Linked DNA regions of Homo sapiens. Each later gene encodes a partner of the first gene's protein in a complex. Each region holds a gene or a part of one and is shown on either strand. Other genes may lie near its edges.

Region 1 (7,333 bases):
GGCTGCCATATGGGGGCCAGTGCCGGCCCTGTCCCTGTCCTGAAGGCCCTGGGAGCCAACGGCACTTTGCTACTTCTTGCCACCAGGATGAATATTCCCAGCAGATTGTGTGCCACTGCCGGGCAGGCTATACGGGTGAGTGGATGGGGGCAGGCGTGGGATCAGGGTGAGTTGGCTGGGCTGAGCACTCACAGCTTCCTCTTAACCGTGGGCAGGGCTGCGATGTGAAGCTTGTGCCCCTGGGCACTTTGGGGACCCATCAAGGCCAGGTGGCCGGTGCCAACTGTGTGAGTGCAGTGGGAACATTGACCCAATGGATCCTGATGCCTGTGACCCCCACACGGGGCAATGCCTGCGCTGTTTACACCACACAGAGGGTCCACACTGTGCCCACTGCAAGCCTGGCTTCCATGGGCAGGCTGCCCGACAGAGCTGTCACCGTGAGTATGAGTGTGGGAGGGCATGGCTGAATTGGGGTTCTGCTTCTTGGCCTCCTCTTGACTACTGTGCTCATCTTGGTTGGCACAGGCTGCACATGCAACCTGCTGGGCACAAATCCGCAGCAGTGCCCATCTCCTGACCAGTGCCACTGTGATCCAAGCAGTGGGCAGTGCCCATGCCTCCCCAATGTCCAGGGCCCTAGCTGTGACCGCTGTGCCCCCAACTTCTGGAACCTCACCAGTGGCCATGGTTGCCAGCCTTGTGCCTGCCACCCAAGCCGGGCCAGAGGCCCCACCTGCAACGAGGTATGGGACCCTCCTGCAGATCCCTGGTTAGATGGGGCCAGGTGTCTGTCTTATCTCCAGGGCTTAGCCTCTTATAGAGGCTCTGACCCTGCCTTGTTCCCACCCCAGTTCACAGGGCAGTGCCACTGCCGTGCCGGCTTTGGAGGGCGGACTTGTTCTGAGTGCCAAGAGCTCCACTGGGGAGACCCTGGGTTGCAGTGCCATGGTGAGGGAGCCAGCGGGGCCAGGGTAGATGGAGGACTTCCCAGAATGCCCCACAGTGACCCTAACTCTGTGCTCTGCTCTTTCTTGCAGCCTGTGATTGTGACTCTCGTGGAATAGATACACCTCAGTGTCACCGCTTCACAGGTCACTGCAGCTGCCGCCCAGGGGTGTCTGGTGTGCGCTGTGACCAGTGTGCCCGTGGCTTCTCAGGAATCTTTCCTGCCTGCCATCCCTGCCATGCATGCTTCGGGGATTGGGACCGAGTGGTGCAGGACTTGGCAGCCCGTACACAGCGCCTAGAGCAGCGGGCGCAGGAGTTGCAACAGACGGGTGTGCTGGGTGCCTTTGAGAGCAGCTTCTGGCACATGCAGGAGAAGCTGGGCATTGTGCAGGGCATCGTAGGTGCCCGCAACACCTCAGCCGCCTCCACTGCACAGCTTGTGGAGGCCACAGAGGAGCTGCGGTGCGGAAGGGCCTAAGAATACATGGTGGGATGGGGCAGAGGCCCAGTGGACCAGGGCTGAAGCCTCTCTAAACACCCCCCTCTCCATCATTGCAGGCGTGAAATTGGGGAGGCCACTGAGCACCTGACTCAGCTCGAGGCAGACCTGACAGATGTGCAAGATGAGAACTTCAATGCCAACCATGCACTAAGTGGTCTGGAGCGAGATAGGCTTGCACTTAATCTCACACTGCGGCAGCTCGACCAGCATCTTGACTTGCTCAAACATTCAAACTTCCTGGGTGAGTTGTTAGCCAACTAGGCAGGTGGACCAGGGTCAGTCTTCAGCTGACTGTCTGCCTCTGCCCAATTTAGGTGCCTATGACAGCATCCGGCATGCCCATAGCCAGTCTGCAGAGGCAGAACGTCGTGCCAATACCTCAGCCCTGGCAGTACCTAGCCCTGTGAGCAACTCGGCAAGTGCTCGGCATCGGACAGAGGCACTGATGGATGCTCAGAAGGAGGACTTCAACAGCAAACACATGGCCAACCAGCGGGCACTTGGCAAGCTCTCTGCCCATACCCACACCCTGAGCCTGACAGACATAAATGAGCTGGTGAGGTTGAAGTGTTGGGTGGGGCAGGTGGGTGTAGATGTTCCTCTCACAGGGCCCTGACTTGTTCTGTGCCTGGCAGGTGTGTGGGGCACCAGGGGATGCACCCTGTGCTACAAGCCCTTGTGGGGGTGCCGGCTGTCGAGATGAGGATGGGCAGCCGCGCTGTGGGGGCCTCAGCTGCAATGGGGCAGCGGCTACAGCAGACCTAGCACTGGGCCGGGCCCGGCACACACAGGCAGAGCTGCAGCGGGCACTGGCAGAAGGTGGTAGCATCCTCAGCAGAGTGGCTGAGACTCGTCGGCAGGCAAGCGAGGCACAGCAGCGGGCCCAGGCAGCCCTGGACAAGGCTAATGCTTCCAGGGGACAGGTGGAACAGGCCAACCAGGAACTTCAAGAACTTATCCAGAGTGTGAAGGACTTCCTCAACCGTGAGCCTCCCACGTGTCCCAGGCCATGTGGTTGTCCCCTTTGGCAACTCCCGGTGTCTGTATCTCCCTTGGTTCATACTTGAGCCTCAGGGACTACACTGGATTAGTGTTTATGATCCCTTGACTGGCTCCTGAGTTATTGCCCATATGTGGTCCCAGGTCCATGTTCTTGAGTCTGAGCCCCTTGTATAGTCCCTGTCCTTGTGATTATATCCTTATGCCTGGTAACAAACCCCTATCCCATGTACATGTCCTGAGTCCATACCCCAAAACTGTATCCTCATGCCCATGCTGGAGAATCTATGTTCTTAAGTTCTTGCTGTGTCCCTATAGAGGAGGGGGCTGATCCTGATAGCATTGAAATGGTGGCCACACGGGTGCTAGAGCTCTCCATCCCAGCTTCAGCTGAGCAGATCCAGCACCTGGCGGGTGCGATTGCAGAGCGAGTCCGGAGCCTGGCAGATGTGGATGCGATCCTGGCACGTACTGTAGGAGATGTGCGTCGTGCCGAGCAGCTACTGCAGGATGCACGGCGGGCAAGGTCTGACCCCATCCCTGGCCCCTATCCCTGACACCTGGTTTTGATACCTCCAGGTTCTGATTCCCCCTTCTCCCCAGGAGCTGGGCTGAGGATGAGAAACAGAAGGCAGAGACAGTACAGGCAGCACTGGAGGAGGCCCAGCGGGCACAGGGTATTGCCCAGGGTGCCATCCGGGGGGCAGTGGCTGACACACGGGACACAGAGCAGACCCTGTACCAGGTGAGGTCTTCCTAGGACATCAGTGGGACAAGGTTATGGGCATGAACCGTAGATCTGTGTAACCTTTGGCTCACCCATGGCAGGTACAGGAGAGGATGGCAGGTGCAGAGCGGGCACTGAGCTCTGCAGGTGAAAGGGCTCGGCAGTTGGATGCTCTCCTGGAGGCTCTGAAATTGAAACGGGCAGGAAATAGTCTGGCAGCCTCTACAGCAGAAGAAACGGCAGGCAGTGCCCAGGGTCGTGCCCAGGAGGCTGAGCAGGTGGGTTGAGGCAGAGCCAGCTGGAGAAGGTAGGGGTGGAAGATGGGCCTCCACTGAGCTACCACGCTAACCTAACCCTCTACATCTGCAGCTGCTACGCGGTCCTCTGGGTGATCAGTACCAGACGGTGAAGGCCCTAGCTGAGCGCAAGGCCCAAGGTGTGCTGGCTGCACAGGCAAGGGCAGAACAACTGCGGGATGAGGCTCGGGACCTGTTGCAAGCCGCTCAGGACAAGCTGCAGCGGCTACAGGGTAAGAAATGGGGCACCAGAGACACAAGACTGCGGGAAACCCCCCCTAAACTGACACCTGCCCTTCCTAGAATTGGAAGGCACCTATGAGGAAAATGAGCGGGCACTGGAGAGTAAGGCAGCCCAGTTGGACGGGTTGGAGGCCAGGATGCGCAGCGTGCTTCAAGCCATCAACTTGCAGGTGCAGATCTACAACACCTGCCAGTGACCCCTGCCCAAGGCCTACCCCAGTTCCTAGCACTGCCCCACATGCATGTCTGCCTATGCACTGAAGAGCTCTTGGCCCGGCAGGGCCCCCAATAAACCAGTGTGAACCCCCACTGTGTTGTCTGGACTCTGATTTGGGGCGGGCGGGGGAGTCTCCAGGGGAACCTCGAGGTTGCCCCCAGCAGAACCCATGCACCGCTAAGCCACCCGAGCACCGCCTCCTTCCGCTCGGGCCCGCCCCGGAGCTGCGGGTCGCTCCGAGCCCATTCCCGCCGGAAGTGCGTCACCAGCTTGGCGCTCCGCCTCCCTCGGCCTTAGCTAGAAGTCGAAACAAAACAAGCCGCTAAGGCGGTGGCGGCGGCGCCGGGACGGGGGAGGGGCGCGCCGGAACCGGAACCGACCTGCGCCGGAACCGGAACGGAGAGCGGGTTGCCAGGGCCCGAAGAGGGCTGGCTGCGGCGGTCTCGCTCGGTGAGTGGAGCAGGCTGCAACTCGCTGGCTTGGCCGCAGCGGGGAGGCCGCAACGCGCGGCCGCGGCGGCCTGTTCAAGGTCACGGGCCGTGCCAGTCCCTACCCCTAGTGCCCCGCAGCGTGCCAGCCCACTGATGCCGGCAGGGCCGTTACGCTATGCCTGTGGCCAGCCTCCCACCTGGGAGAGGACTGGCGGCCAGCGAGGGCAACTTCGTGGGAGAGGTGGTGGCGGGCTCGGGGTTCAGAGGCTGAAGCTGGGTCGCAGCTCGACCGGGGCGCTGATCTGTGGTCAGTAACCCCGCGCTGCCATTTCAGGCCGGCTCGGGTCTCTAAACAGCCCCTTACCCGCCTCGACGTCCCTGGGGCATGGGGGAGGGACGCGACCTTCGGCTGGGGCCTGGGTGCAAGAAGGAGGCGCCGGTGGCAGGTGTCATTAAAGATCCAGCCCACCAGTACCACATCTGACCTGTAGAAGGGTATCCTGCCATCCCTCCTTCCTCCTTTACACACTTAGGGGAACACAGACTAGTCATTATCTGTCCTGCTACTGGTTCAGGCCAGGCTTGAGGCTGCCAGGAGTCCTGGATCTGTGGTCCTCCCCAGCCTCATCTCAGTATCTAGTTTCAAGACCTTCATTTTGGAGGAGGAAACAGTCCAGAATCCACTGGTGGGTCTGTGGGAAACTGTAGTGGTCCTTGTGGCTCAGAGCTCATGAGTGAAGGCATCTGGGAAGGAAGGTGATAATTTCTGTTCCAGTCTCAAACTGGATGCCCATCCTGCCTTAGTACTGGAGCAGGGTTGCTGCTGAAGAGGTAGCGTGACATCTAGATACACTTTTCAGTCCCTTTCTGCTTGGGACAGCAGCTGGGGAGAGGACTTTCTCTTGAAATGAAGAAGGACCAAGCAGTACATAGGAGCAGGTTCTTGCCAAGGGTGGGAGCTGGCAGGAGGCAGGTGGAGTGCCTTAGCCCCAGGACTTTTTCTGGGCAATGGTAGAACCTGGGTTGAGCCTGTTTACAGCCACAGAGCCTGGTTCTCCTGCGGCTTGTCTCCTGTCCTGCCTTCCTCCTCCACCTTCTATTTCTCCAGTGGTGACTAAGCAGCCAGTGAGAGTGAAGGAAAAGTGAGCACCCTGCTCGGAGTGCCAGCCCTGTGGGCTGGAGCCGTGGCTCCTCTCCAGATTGGTGGAGTAGCCTGGTCCCAGGCCATGACTTCCTTGACCTGGTGCCCCCTCAGTGAGGCTTTCACCTGTGTGGGACTGTTATGGTGGGTATCTATGAGGCTTGGCCAGAAGTGGTTGCTGCTACTTGCATTATTTATTACCTCTTCAGAATATCCTGAGAGTGTCCAGGGGTACTTAAGAGATGAGAAGATACAGCTCTGTAGCATTAGTGTCCTGTGTTGCTGAGCCCTGGGTGTAGCTAAAGAGCAAGTTGTTGGGTCTTGGCAGTGATCACTGGCTTCTTTCCATTAGGCTGTCCGTTCCTTGCTGGAGAATTTGGCCACAAAGAGTTGCCAAGATAGCTGGGCCAGGAAGAAAGCGCCGCAGCCCTGACCCAGACGCTGTTGCCGACCCCGGGGCACTCTGGCTGTCGACCAAGCGGCTCAAGATGTCTGGCGGGGCCAGTGCCACAGGCCCAAGGAGAGGGCCCCCAGGACTGGAGGACACCACTAGTAAGAAGAAGCAGAAGGATCGAGCAAACCAGGAGAGCAAGGATGGAGATCCTAGGAAAGGTGGGAGTGGCATTCCCAGAGTAATTGTGGCCTTCTCTGCCTCCCATCTTATTGGTATACAGATTGGGGTTTGGGAGATGACTTTCTTGTTCTTCTCTCTGTCCTGGTTTGATGATGAGAGAAGAAGGACCCATGATAACCTCAGTAGAGCCTCAGCTTTGAAGCCTGAGTACTTGGCTAAGATCCAGAAGATGGTGCTGTTGGGGGGCTTGCCTTCTTTCCTTTTTAAACTTTTTTCTTTTTTTTGAACCTGTTCTTTTTTTCCTTTTTTTTTTGAGATGGAGTCTCATTCTGTAGCCCAGGCTGGAGTGCAGTGGTGCAATATTGGCTCACTGCAACGTCCACCTCCTGGTTCAGGTGATTGTCCTGCCTCAGCCTCCCAAGTAGCTGGGATTACAGGTGCATGCCACCACGCAAGGCTAATTTTTTTTTTTTTTTTGAGACAATGTCTCACTCTGTCATCCAGGCTAGAGTGTAGTGGCGTCTTGGCTCACTGCGGGCTCTGCCTCCCGGGTTCAAGTGATTCTGCTGCCTCAGCCTCCCAAGTAGCCTCAGCCTCCCAAGTAGCTGGGATTACAGGTATGCACCACCACACTCAGCTAATTTTTGTATTTTTAGTAGAGACGGGGTTTCACCATGTTGGCCAGACTGGTCACAAACTCCTGACCTCAGGTGATCCACCCACCTCGGCCTCTCAAAGTGCTGGGATTGCAGGCGTGAACCACCGTGCCTGTCCCTTTTTTTTTTTTTTTTTTAAAGGCAGGGTCTCACTCTTGCACAGATTGGAGTGCAGTGCAGGTGTGATCGTAGCTTACTGCATCCTCAAAGTCCTGGGCTCAAGCAGTCCTCCTACCTCAGCCTCCTCACCATGCTTGACTAATTTTTCTTATTTTTTTTTTAGAGACAGGGTCTCGATATGTTGCCCAGGCTGGTCTTGAACCTCTGGCCTCAGGTGATCCTTCTGCCTCAGCCTCCCATGCAGCTGGGATCACAGGCTCACGCCACCGTACCCGGCTGTTCTTTCCTTCATCGTCAGGGTCAGCATCCACTCCTCAAGAGGAGCAGACCAAAGAGGGTCAGTAACGAATGGGCTTTTTGTTGCTAGGGAAGGGGAGGGGGCACTTGCAATTTGGCTCCCATCTGAAGCAGTTTCATTAGGCTGGGTCTCTGTTACCTGCTTATCACCATCAGGAGCTTGTGAAGACCCTCATGAT
Region 2 (6,904 bases), on another chromosome or scaffold:
AATAAAGATCTGAATGTCATTAGAATACGCACAGTAGTAGGTGAGTAAACAAATACCTACTGAGCACTAGGTACTGAGGATATATATTAAAAACACAATTCTTGCCCTTATGCAGCAGATATTCTAGTAACTATAGCCATGGGAACTAAATCATTTAAAGTGCATTAGACATCCTGCTATTTTGAAGAATACTATTAAGGATACTTATTGTAAAAAGGAAAATTTCCTTTTTTGGCGGGGGGATGGAAGGTTCTGGGGATTTCATACAGATTTTGTTGAAAGAGAGGGCTGTACAAAAAATATCTAGATTTTAACATTTCACAAAGCGAATATGGAAATTCCACAAAATTCTGTTAATAAATCTCTTTAAACAAAGAACCTCCAATCTTTAAAAATTTTGTAAATCAACTGCTTAAAAATACAATTTAAGCAGTCACCTAAAACTCTGTAAATTACTAAACTTTGTTACCCTAGTTATGTAAGATCTGTTTTCAAAACACCATACTCACTGAAAATCCTATTTGTTATTTTATGTCATTACTGACATAGCTAGATAATTCCTTCATAACTCCAATTTAACCTAATCATGCTTTTTAATTACAGATATTAAGAAAGAATATTTCTCTACAGCAATTTCGTAAGAACTTCCCGAAGCTTAGAGGGAATAGATTAATATTTAACAGATGTAAAATGCATTAACATTGTTTCTGAATTTGTACTTTGTGGAATACTTATCCTGAAAAGTTATCAGTTTCACATCTATTATACGTATTTCAGTTTAAAATATTAAATGTTAGTAAATTATGTTGGAAAGATGCCAATAACGAAAAAAAAACTGTTTGGCATAAACTTTGGGGAACAAATTCTGGATATAATCGCAACTAACCATCCAAGATTACAGAAATCTGTATCTTTATTTAAATTTTCAGAATGAAACACTACACAACCAATTTGTGTAATCTACTTTGAGTCTCAAGATCTACCAGTCTAAAGTCCTCCTAACAACTAATTAAAATCCTCTCCACCATAATTTGAGCCAACAACTCCCAGATAAAATTACCAGACCATTACATTTGCCACCACACTACATTCTGCTCTTCAGTAACTTCTAAAAGTGATGGTAACACCATAGATACACACTCAAGTATTCACTGTCCCACTTTTCTAAGTTGGTTAACTCAAGTCCTTGAAAGTGAACTGATCAATAAATCTAAACTAGCTAAGAGAAGACCTCATTTTAATCAATTTGATTTTTTTTAATCACAAAGATATAGCCATTCAAATCCCCGGCCACAGCAATTTCCAAAATGCCACCATCTCAGAAAGTCTGTTAATTTATCATACAAATCTCCTTGTCCTTTTTAACAACAAAATGCATTGAAAGAAAAAACCCAGCACTAAAGATCTGTGACCTGATTTCACAAATTCTGGTCTATGCACTTTCATCATACCAACACATCATGCCAAGAAAACCTCGTAAGTTTAGCTATTAAACTACAGTCTTAACAGTAAGCATTTGTTGAGAACTTAGTATGGGGCTGCCACTGCTTTCAGTCCACCTATTGTCATCTCATCAATTCTCAACAGGGCTTGAGGTAGATACTGTCGTTACACCCATTTTGCAGATAAGGAAAGCGAAGCACAGAGAAGTATCTGCCCAAGGTCACAAACCAGTGGAGCAGGATTTGACCCAAAGCAGACAGTCGGACTTCACAGCCCGTGCTCTCAACATCCAACTGCTGAAGAGTTAACAATTTACCCTTGACAGCCGCTATAAGCAAAGGTAAATGCTCAACTGCTAGGAAGGGACAGTCAGAACACCGTCCCATATCCAGTATCCATGTCTCTCTGTTTGTTTATGGCCTCTATGACTTTGGCAAAAGAAGTACACACAATCTGATTTTCCGAACACCCAAGCTGGACTTTTCTGAATGTCCGAGCAAACAAATTATGTATCTTTCCAGGAACGGGCAGACAGCGAAAACGAACCTACGCATCGGAGTGGCCCAGGTTATTCACTTTAAGTTATAAATTTGGGAGAGTTAAGAAAGGACCCCAAACTACCCGGCAAATGAACCCTAGGAAATGCCAGGTTTATAATAAGCTAGAGCTTCCCCGGCACGCCGTTCACGCGCTCTCCTCTCTAACGACATAAACAAGGGAGGAGGCTGCATTCTTCCCACTGCACAATGAAGCCTCCGGCCGAAGCGGCAGGAAGAGCGCAGCCCCGTCCCGGACGGCTCCAGCCGGGGGTCGGGGGCAGAGAGCGGAGGCCGAGGCCCGCCGAGCGGCGCGGTGCGGCCCGGGCCTCCGGGCGCCGCGGGGAGGAGGGGGAGGGAGGGCAGGGCCCCGGCAGCTGCCCGCACTCAGCTGACCTCCGCCATGTTGGCCGCACACCCCGGGACCCTCCACAACAAAGGCCGGCACGAGGGCGCGGGGCGCGCCGGGCGCCACCCCCGGCCGGGCCCGCCTCCCGGGCGCGCGGGGGCCGGGCCGCCGCCGAGGCCCTTCCCCCGCCCTCGGCCCGGCCGCGCGGGGCCGACCCCCGCCGCCACCCCGCCGGGCCCGGGGCTCCAGGGGCGGGGGCGAGCCGGCTTGCGAAGGCTGAAGGCAGGGGAGGGGCGGGGGGCGGCGCTCGACCGGGCGGCCCGACTCCGGCCGAGACAAAGGCGCCGCCGCGCCGACTACTGCCCGCGCCCCGGCCGGGCCGCCCTTCCCGCCCTCCGCCATTACCGGGCCTGGGCGCCCGCCTGTCGGAGAGCCCCTCGCCGCCGGCTCCTCCCTCAGGCCGGGCCCCACTTACCTGTGGGCGGAGAGCGCGCCTCGGACCCCGGTCCTGGCACCAACGCGCTCCGTCGCCAACCCCCGCCACCGCGGGCAGCGCCACCGCCTCTTCCCGGCGCCGAGACCGACGGGACACCCTGGGCCGCCGCCGCCTCTCGAGAGCGCGCCCCGCAACGGCCGCCCCGGCTCCCCCCTGGCCGCCGCCGCCGCCGCCGTTTCGCGCGTCCTCGAGCCCGCCGCGCGCCCCCGCTAAATACCACACACTGCGGCGGCGGCCATGAGGAGGCGCGGCCCCGCGCGCTGGGAGCCTGGGGGGGCGGGGCTTTCGCGGGCGCGCAGGCGCACAGGCGTTGGCGCGGCCGGCGGCGGCCTCCGCGGGCGTAGCTGTGCGGGTCTCCAAAGGCGGCAGTAGGTGCGGGGGCTACTCGGCTACCGTTGCTGCGCCCGTGCACCGCGCATTCAACGGATCCTGGCACGTGGCGCTCTGGCCCGCGAGAAGCTAGCGCTTGCCCGTCGGCTCAGGGCAGCTCCTCCCGCGGCGCTTTGTTCCGGGGCCGCGTGACCCCCCCGGCTCCGGCCGGAGGGGTCGCCCAGCGGGATGCGAGCCCCAGGCTGGCCGCCGCCGCGGCCTTGTGCCCTCCCCCTTGTTTTGTCTGCTGATTTAGCCCAGCGCCTCCACGGATCCTTCCCAACTCCACTCAGTCCCAAAGAAAAAGCGGCTGCCCTGCCCGCCGACCGGGACCCCACCCCTAAAGAGAGTCCCAGCCTCTCCCGAGGTTGAGCCGCTCCTCAGCAACAGCGGGACGAGCTTCAAAAGCTTGTTTCAGCTGAAAAGTGGGTAATGGGGAAGCACGCGTTTTCCTGTGTCCATGCTCATCTGGAAAGTCCCTAATTAGGGACTCTGCATTCCACTTCTTGAAATAATAAAAGGAAAACATCACTTGCAATTCTTTGATGGGTGCTATGAGCAGAAGCAAGCATCTGAGACATTTACAAGCCCTAACTGGAATTCCATGTAAGATCTATTAAAATGGTATTCCGTCCGGACGCGGTGGCTCACGCCTGTAATCCCAGCACTTAGGGAGGCCGAGGCCGATGGATTACCTGAGGTCAGGAGTTCGAGAGTAGCCTGGCCAACATGGTGAAACCCTATCTCTACTAAAAATACAAAAATTAGCCGGGCGTGGTGGTGCACGCCTGTAGTCCCAGCTACTCGGAGGCTGAGGCAGGAGAATCGCTTGAACCCGGGAGGCAGAGGTTGCAGTGAGGCAGAGATCAGGCCATTGCACTCCAGCCTGGACAACAGAGCGAGACTCTGTCTCAAAAAAATAAAAATAAAAATAGAAAAATCCCATACCGGGCACGTATGTACAAATTCCCAGTGTATGATAAAGTTTATATGTGCAAAACACTAGTTTACAGTATTCCTAATTACATGATTTAAACTGCAATTTTACTTTCACATTTTTGGGGAGAAGTTATAGCTCCTCAGTACACGGGAAGGTCAATAGAGTTCGGTTCACTTCAGTTTAGAGGTAAATTTTCCATTTTTACAGACTATGTGCTTGGCATAGCCATGTGGCCTTGACCTGGTCGTGAAGGGCAGAGGAGTTCTGTCCTGGGCGAGGAGCAGCTCTGGGGTGAGATGTGTTTCTCGCCCCCAGAACCCCTGGGCCGCTCTGCAAGCAGTGAAATGGATACGGACTAAGAGAGAACTTGCCAACGTGGCGATTAAAGTTCTAAACACCCGGCTTTGCCAAAGTCAGATTTTGTCCTCCTTATCCCGCATCCCTTCCTCTACCCAACAGCATTTGTCCATCTGAAAATAACAGTCTGTCTCTGGCCCACTGCTGACAGTCGAGGACTTACCTTATAAACTAGTGGATTCTCTTAAACTGCAGGGGTGCCCAGGACACAGTGTCCCCTGAGGATGCCGCACACCAGTCTTGAAGTGCTGGATCGTTGACGTCAGGCACCCAGAAGCAACTTCTGCCTCTGGAATTCTCAAACGTGCTTTTCTTGGCTTAGTTTGTGCCTGCTCTCCTCTAGAAGAGTCCAAGTTACTTCTTACTTTCCCCACTTCCCTTTTATACAAAACAAATTTAATCGGGTTAATTCCATCTCTGAGAATTCCTACCTAGATTTGGGCGGGGCTCAATCTGATTTGGTTAATTCTGGGTGGTAGCTATGGGTGGGACATAAACATCACCATTATAAATTTAATTTACTCCCCCTCTCAAAAAAATGTACCTTCCATTTGAAAGAAAATAGCTCCACTGTGGGGGTAACTAAGCACCTTTTCTGAACAGGGAGTTGACTCTGCTTCCTTGACAGTTTATCCATAGAAAAGCATTTTGTAAACTGTAAAGCCTATCCAAATAATCCTCCAATTGATGGGATTTCAGTAACGGTGACAAATATTTTCAGGCCACATCTGGATAGGGAGCCTTCCTGGTCCCCTCAAATCACATCAAATGGTAATTCCATCTATTGCAATGGAACATAACGCTCTGGTCCTGCATCTGGCCCGTAGTTAAGGTACCAGTGATGTAAATTACTTTCCTCTTATGAATAAAACAGGCACTGGCCAGGCACGGTGGCTCACACCTGTAATCCCAGCACTTTGGGAGGCCAAGGCAAGAGGATCGCTTGAGGCCCAGAAGTTCCAGACCAACCTAAGAACATAGCAAGACCCCGTCCCTATAAAAAGTTTAAAAATTAGCCCGGCAGGGTGGTGTGCGCCTGTAATCTCATCTAATCAGGAGGCCAAAATGAGAGGATTGCTTGAACCTGGGAATTTGAGGCCATAGTGAGCTATGATTGTGCCCCTGCACTCCCATCTGGGTGACAGAGGGACACTCCATCTCTAAAAACATAAAAATAAATGAATAAATAAAACAGGCACTGATGAGAGTATCTTTATTTGGGGGTTTTGCTATGAATTTATATTAAATTGATATTTATTTATTTATTTATTTTGTAATCTCGGCTCACTGCAACCTCCATCTCCTGGGTTCAAGCGATTCTTGTGCCTCAGCCTCTCAGATAATGCTGTCAAAGTTGGCTAAACTAGTTAAGACTGAACAGATGATTTCCAAGTGTCTTCATGTCAATATAGTTATTTTACAATAGACCAGTTCACAAGACCAAACCCATCTATTGAATCACCGATGGGCTGTGTTTGTTTCCAGGCAATCACAGATGTCTCTTGCCCAGGAAACTATAGCTATCTCCTCTTACATTAAACCACTGATACCCATTTGTCATTCAGCTTAGGTGGATAGGTCTGGAAACATATTAGCATTCCCTTCCAAGCCTGGCTCTGCTGGTAGCGAAACAGAATCTTTTTCAGCCTGGAAACTGGAAGGCGGTTCCTCCCTCCCAAATAGACTCCTATAAGCTTTGCAAAGGAAAGCAGGTCCCCAACTTGTCAGACATGCCTACAGCAGAGCAGAAACAATGTTTTCTTTATCAGACACACCTGTTGCCAGTCACTGTCTGAGGTTGGTGAATGTGTTAAACAGTATCCCAAACAAATTTTCCTGGACATGGTGGAGAAGTTAGAGACACAACATGAGCATCCAAGAATGAAACAGGAAGTAGCTGAAGGAAGTTCCCAAAAGCCCAAGTGGTTGGGAAATGAGTTCGCCCATAACTGTAGTTTTCCTTCAATATAATCAAGTTTCTTTAGGAAAAAGGTTACATGCTAGGCATCACATTTTTCAAGAAGTTAGAGCCGGGCACGGTGGCTCACGCCTGTAATCCCAGCACTTTAGGAGGCCAATGCCTGCAGATCACCTGAGGTCAGGATTTGGAGACCAGCCTGGCCAACATGGTGAAACTTCGTCTCTACTAAAACTACAAAAATTAGCCAGGTGTGGTGGTGGATGCCTGTAATCTCAGCTACTCGGGAGGCTGAGGCAGGACAATCACTTGAACCCAGGAGGTGGAGGTTGCAGTGAGCAGAGATCACACCACTGCACTCCAGCCTGGGCAACAGAGCAAGATCCTTGTATCAAAAAAAAAAATTAGAAAATCATTGAGGTTTTTATGTAGCTGGTGGAAGTAGGTGATACTGACAATTAGTTTAAGTAATTGTTGTTCTTGAGTTCATTGGAAT

What was found. The genes of interacting proteins can lie anywhere in the genome.
Region 2: the proteins of USP19 (region 1) and SIAH1 are in contact, whole or in part, in a crystal structure (PDB 4X3G), measured with the Homo sapiens proteins. Residues at the interface, in NP_006668.1 of Homo sapiens: Lys463, Pro464, Thr465, Cys466, Met467, Val468, Pro469, Pro470, Met471; in NP_003022.3 of Homo sapiens: Cys130, Pro131, Thr156, Leu158, Gln159, Asp162, Ile163, Val164, Phe165, Leu166, Ala167, Thr168, Leu172, Val176, Asp177, Trp178, Val179, Met180, Asn276.

What each region holds. Positions count from the first base shown.
Region 1 is NC_000003.12:49,117,808-49,125,140, reverse strand, and holds the start of USP19 (ubiquitin carboxyl-terminal hydrolase 19), read left to right. Parts: upstream 1-4,317; 5' UTR 4,318-4,385; exon of another isoform or gene 4,386-4,673; intron 4,674-5,859; 5' UTR 5,860-5,995; coding exon 5,996-6,119; intron 6,120-7,020; coding exon 7,021-7,194; intron 7,195-7,310; coding exon 7,311-7,333. Other genes in the region: LAMB2 (laminin subunit beta-2 precursor), read left to right, coding at 1-135, 216-440, 529-746, 855-951, 1,041-1,413, 1,510-1,694, 1,768-2,009, 2,089-2,437 and 5 more. UniProt on the Homo sapiens protein: Deubiquitinating enzyme that regulates the degradation of various proteins by removing ubiquitin moieties, thereby preventing their proteasomal degradation. Stabilizes RNF123, which promotes CDKN1B degradation and contributes to cell proliferation.
Region 2 is NC_000016.10:48,382,401-48,389,304, forward strand, and holds the start of SIAH1 (E3 ubiquitin-protein ligase SIAH1), read right to left. Parts: upstream 3,014-6,904; 5' UTR 2,804-3,013; intron 2,470-2,803; exon of another isoform or gene 2,376-2,469; intron 1-2,375. UniProt on the Homo sapiens protein: E3 ubiquitin-protein ligase that mediates ubiquitination and subsequent proteasomal degradation of target proteins.